2 separate regions of the Homo sapiens genome follow, and region 1 is linked to region 2. The links come from fine-mapping of genetic effects on gene expression. A gene starts in region 2. The other region holds a variant in brackets. All regions are shown on one strand. Distances are between the middles of the regions.

Region 1 (2,898 bases), 110 kb before region 2:
TCTTCTGGTAGGAAATCAGGGGAAAGGGGACGAAAGGATGGCTGGAAAGGCTCCAAGAGGAGAGGCTGCTGCTTTTTTTTTTTTTTTTTTTGAGACGGAGTCTGTCTTTGTTGGCCAGGCTGGAGTGCAGTGGCGCGATCTTGGCTCACTGCAAGCTCTGCCTCCCTGGTTCACACCATCCTCCTGCCTCAGCCTCCCAAGTAGCTGGGACTACAGGCACCCGCCACCACACCCGGCTAATTTTTTGTATTTTTTTAAGTAGAGACGGGGTTTCACTGTGTTAGCCAGGATGGTCTCCATCTCCTGATCTCGTGATCCGCCCGCCTCGGCCTCCTAAAGTGCTGGGATTACAGGTGTGAGCCACCGCTCCCAGCCGGGGTTGCTGCTCTTACCGAAGTGTAGGAAGACCTTCTGCTCCCTCCTCTCTGTGAGCAGCTGGTCGTGGGACAGGAGGTCTGCGTACTGCTGCTGCTTGATTTTCTGGATGATGGTTTCTGCCTCCTGGAACAAGAACATGCCCGGGCCTCTGGTGAGAAGCCCTGCTGATCCAGGCCTGACAAGCTTCGGGGCTGGGGGCGGGCAGCTGGATGACCCGGGCTGCAGAGTGATGGTGGCAGGGTGGCTGTGACAGTTATGGGAACCGGGTGTGAGCACAGGGGAACCGTGAGGAGCGGCTGAGGCTCAGTAATGGAAACAGCGTTGAGCCCCCAAGGGGAGCAGCCGCCTCAGCCCACTTGATTCACATGTCTCCACGACCACCTGCCCCAAGCTGACTCAAGGGAGCCTCCATCTCATACAGCCCCAGCCCCAGCCCCAGGCGGGCAGCCCTTACCCAGGTAGGCAGATCCACACGGTAGTTAAGATCCCCAAACCAGAAGAGGTGCGTGAAGCGGTGAGTGATGTTAAAGGGACTCAGCTTCTTGTCGCCCAGGGCCAGGAACCGGAGAATGTTCATATAGTTTTGGTTTCGCCTAATGCAAGGAAAAAGCGGCCATCTAGCACGGGGTCACTGGTTCCCCCTCCACTGTGGCAGGAAGTCACTCCTGCCATAGGTGTGGGGCGAGGAGCATAGCAGGTGGGGGGAAGTGAGACTTAGCCCTCCAGCCCTGCTGCAGCAGAACTCCTTAGTGTGCAAATATGGCACAGCCAGGATGCAAAGGGCATTTGAGGCCACATTGGGTGTACAGAGGGCAGGGGACCAGGAGCAGCAGCATCTGCTCAGCAGAGAATCAGAACAGTGAAGATTCTAGATGGCTGTCTTCATTCCTGGGCCCCAGCTAGGCAAGATCAGCTTGGATTTGTAAGGAGG[C/A]CCCAGAGGAGGCTTTCTGCTTTAGAAACAGTGCTAGTTAGCGGTCCATCAGGCTAATGACACAAGGAAATATCTTTTCTGACCTTCAGACAAAATTCCTCCACACGTGAGGTCACTATGGTGCTGCAGTTGCCTTTGATGAGACTGTGGTGGGCCCTGAAAGGCCACAGGACATCCACAAGGTCAAAGGCAGGAGCTGAGCAGGTCCTTCTGGTGCTTAAAGGTGTGAGGCGTGTCTGGGCAGACAGCCCAAATGCACACTCTTGGGGGGAAGGAGTTCCATTACCTGAGTTTCTTTTCACTTCCTGAAGTCAAGTGGCTGTTGACGAACCCTAAGGAGGTTCCATTGAACATGAACGACACCCCCACGGCTCCCTTGTTCCCTAAAAAGAAGAGCAGAAAGAAGAATCAAAATATCAAACAGACACACTTGCCAAGGGGCCAGAAATCACCCGAAGGCAGGGTGAGAGGGGCAGTGAGTGAGGAGCTGGCAAGGGATGGGCGAAACAGGGTCGTGCAGGGTGGGAGCCGCTGGGCAGAGAGCGGGAGATGAGAAAATGCAGGAGCAGTGCAGATGGCGGCAGCCTCAGCCTTCTCGGCGGGGCAGAGGAAGGTGGCTGCTGCGATCCTCCCCCGGCATCTCTCTCTAAAGTGACCAGGGTGCTAAGCGGGCAGCCAGAAGCCCTGGGAAGATTCAGAAGGTTCCAGCCTGGGTGGGCTGATCTCCCTCCCAGTGAACTCAAGTTTCCTGGGGAGACCAAAAACCCACACTGAGATCATACCTTTTTCTGCCAACGTTCTGATCTATTCTAGGTCAGTGGTTCCCAAAGGGAGTTCCCTGGACCAGCAGCTGCACATCACCTGGGAACTTCATGGAAGGGCAGATTCTCAGCCCCACCCCAGACCTACTGAATCTGAAATCCTGGGATGGGGCCCAGTAATCTGTGTTTGACAAGCCCTCCAGTGTCAGGGGTGGGCAAATGCTGGCTCACTGCCAGCTACAAATGGTTTTACATTTGTAAATGGTTGGAAACAAATCAAAAGAAAAACCATCTTTTGTCATTCATGAAAATACGAAATTCAAATTTCAGTGTTCGTAAAGAACACGTTACTGGAACACAGCCATGCCTATTGACTTCTGGATTGTCTGTAGCTGCTTTCAGACTACGATGGCAGAGCTGAAGCATTGTGACAGTTGTGTGGCCCAAAGAGCCTAGAATATTCACCATCTGGCCTTCTATGGAAAACGCTTGTTAACCCCTGCTCTAGGTGATTCTGACACATGCAGGTGAGAACCTGCTCTGTCCAATACAGGCACAGGCCACATGTGACTATCAAACACCTGAAATGTGGCTGGTACAAAATGAGACAGGTTGTGAGTGTAAAATACACATTGGAATTGTGGCCTTGGTAAGAAACACAGACTGTAAAATATCTAATAACCTTTTACATTAAATATCTATTGAAATAATTGTATTTTGGATGTATGAAATTCAATAAAATCTATTATTGAAATTAATTTCACTTGTTTTCTTTTTAATGTGGCTACTAGAAAATTTGATCTATTGATTGTAATAAATCAAATTGTA
Region 2 (2,898 bases):
GCTGGTCTCAGCTGCAGCCTCTGGGGGCAGATGGCCGTGGCTTTGACTGTTGTCACTCACTTAACCTGCCAGGGCCTCAGATTTCTCATCTGCAAAGTGGGGCTTTTAACAGGACCTTCACTTTAGGTTGTGGTGAGGATGAAATGGGCTAACAAATGCTTAGCACGACAGGTCCCAGCTGTGAGTCAGTATTCAAAACAGGTCTGGGTTCATCACCCAATTCCCCTCCTGCCTGGAGAAGCACAAGGCCCTGGCTGCTCGGGGGAACATTTCTGCCAGCCCAGGGATGCTACTTGAGATGTTCAGGTGGACACACATTTCCCTGACTACACTCCGGCACTGCCTGAGGCCCCGGCAAAATGATTAGACCAAGAGCTGCAGGGCAAGGCCCCCCTATGATTAGACCGAGAGCTGCAGGGCAAGGGCCTCCTTCAGACGCTGGACAGGAAGGGGGTTTTAGAAAGGAACCTTCAGCAAGTGGCTGGTTCCTCCATTGTTAGCACAGCTGGTACATTCAGTAACATCCCCAACCGGGCAGTGGGAGGAGTTGATGGTGACAGAGACCCAAATTGAGGGGGTGGGGGGTGGGCAGCGGTCACAGCCAAGTGCTCAGGAGAGAGAAGAGGCTGCTCGCTGGTGGTAATGGTGACTTCCTCTGCTCTCAGGCCCCTGAAAGCAGCTTCTGACTGAATGGAAAGTCCTTTCTTGATTAAACTCACCCCATATTCTTGGCTCGCCAAACAACAGCTTCCTCCAGGGGCCCGAAGCCTGGGTGCTCCAGGAAGGGTCCCCCTTGCCACCTTTGCTCTTCTCAGGGTTTCTGAGCTGGGCATCTTTGAGCTGATCTCTAACACACCCACCTCCACAGAGCCCTGAGCTTCCTCCTGGCTCCAAAAGCCCAAACTCCCTTCTCTCGGTCCCCAGACTCCAAGGAAGCCACAAGGTCCATACAGCTCATGGGAAGCTGGGGTGTAACATCAGGCCTCAGAGTGGTTCTGACAGCTCCAAGGCTGCAAAACCTGCCATGAGACCAGCTCTCTGAACTCCAAGGACAAGGTCCATGACAGGGTGGCGGGGAAGTGTGCATGTCAGATCACTCTGTCCTGTGACATAAGAACAACCCATCTCAAAGCTGGGCCCCCTCTAAGCCCCTCTGTCATATCTGTGCCCGGGGAGGGAGCAGGTTGTACTCACAGCACGCAGAGCGCGTATGCCCGGGAGATGGACTCGCTGGCACGCACGAGGAAGCTCCCGTCCTTGCCTGTCCTGGAAAGCAGCTCCTCCGCCTTGGAGCGGGTGATGTTGCCATGGTTCCAGCAGGGGACCATGGTGGGCGTGGGCCTCCTCGGCCGGGCCGGCAGGCACCCCCAGGACCCACACACCACCGAGGGGAGCGGAGGCCCCTCCACTGCAACCTGCCGCCCGTTGCCTCTTGGTGGCCTCGGCTGCTGCCACCAGCTTAACTGACTGACTTCCTGTTTCAGGCGCTCAGTGAGGGAAAGGAAACTGAGCTGCGGAGAACTTCCTCATTACAGAAACCAAGCAAGAGAGAGAGAGAGAAAGAGAGAGAGGGGGGGGCCCTGGCCGTCCACCGTCCCCTACACCCTGCCACGGCTGCCGCGGCTCTCTTGCCAGCCCTCTCCTTCCTGGCAACTGGTCGCAGCGTACAATTGAAGTGTCCAGTGGCAGCTGAAGTCCCCCTGGGTGGAATGACCGGCTCTGGAGACGTCAGGAGAGTTGTGGCCACTTCTGAAGAAGCATGGCCTAGCAGGCATGGGTGGGCCAGAGAAGTGGTTCTTCTGCGGCCGTGCTGACACCCACGTGGGATGCCATGCCCTAGACAGGCCCCCGAGCCTTCTGCTCTCCCTCAGGGCTTTTCAGCACCCACCCTGAACCTCCAAAACACCCAAGGGGGCACAGCTTCTCAACTGGGACTACGGCCTGCCCAGGACAGAGCAAACTTGAGGGGGAGGGGACAGTCGAGCCCCACCCCTCCCCTTTAGAGACTCCCAGCGGCCTGGGTGCTGGGAGACCTTGGCTGCCACCAGCCGAGGGCGCCAAGGTCCAAGTGATGGCTCTGTGACCCCATTACCCTCATTCCCAGGGGCGGGTGGGTGCTGCACGGGCAGCACAGCTCTGATCCCTGCAGTCCAGCTTGGAGACACACAAAGGGAGCTTGGAGGGGATGTGGGCCGTTTACAGCGGGAACATAGGCTGGGTTTTTCCCTGGGCTTCTCCAGGATGCTGGGGAAACAAGCTCGGAGAGGAGAACCCCAAAGCCCCACAGGGCAGGCTGGCCGCCTGGCCAAGGACAACACTGGGTGCTGAGTCCTGCGTCTCAGCAGTCGGGGTGGCCGGTCGGACTGCACCGCCTCCAAGACTGGGCATGGCCACATATGCCCACCACTCAAAGAGGAGCTGCCTCTCCAGGGACCGCCATCCAGGACCAGTCATTTCTGAGGGCTCTGCGGTGGACACCCATCCCTCAGCCCCCAGACCTGGGCACCTTCCGTCCTTGGGTCCGGCCCACCAAGGCCGAAGGGGCACGTGTTGACCCGCTGCACAAAGAGTGCCCCCACCATCCCACATCCAGGCCTTGGCCTCCAGGACATGACAACAGACTCCCTCCAGGAAGGGGCACCAGCCAGGCAGCGCCACCACATTCAAGCTGTGGGAACCTGGTCAAGTTTCTTCTCTCTCTCGGCCTTGGTTTCTTCTTGTCTAACTTGAAGGACGTAGCTCGTAAAAGAGCTCACATGTGCCCAGGGGCTCAACATGTGTCACACTGATGGTTGTCCCAGAACAGGGCCCCCAGCACCTCCCCGCTGAGCAACACACATGGCAGGCGAGTCTGTAGGGCAGACAAAGCACTCCCAGTCAAGGACCTCTGGCCAGGCT

The links. PIP is the estimated chance that this variant, and not a neighbour inherited with it, causes the effect.
Region 1: its variant is fine-mapped to the expression of INPP5D in whole blood (TOPMed, PIP above 0.99).

The regions. Positions count from the first base shown.
Region 1 is chr2:233,168,099-233,170,996 of GRCh38, reverse strand. It overlaps INPP5D (inositol polyphosphate-5-phosphatase D), which reads right to left. Exons shown (of 27, transcript NM_001017915.3): 14 at 1,596-1,692; 15 at 833-971; 16 at 393-501. Among named protein-coding and RNA genes, the nearest start is that of ATG16L1, 82 kb to the left of the region's middle. The variant C/A (reference allele first, on the strand shown) is at 1,310.
Region 2 is chr2:233,058,909-233,061,806 of GRCh38, reverse strand. INPP5D (inositol polyphosphate-5-phosphatase D) reads right to left here and starts at 1,465. Exons shown (of 27, transcript NM_001017915.3): 1 at 1,195-1,465. The coding sequence starts at 1,328. RefSeq lists enhancers at 821-910, 1,511-1,790 and a silencer at 1,231-1,310.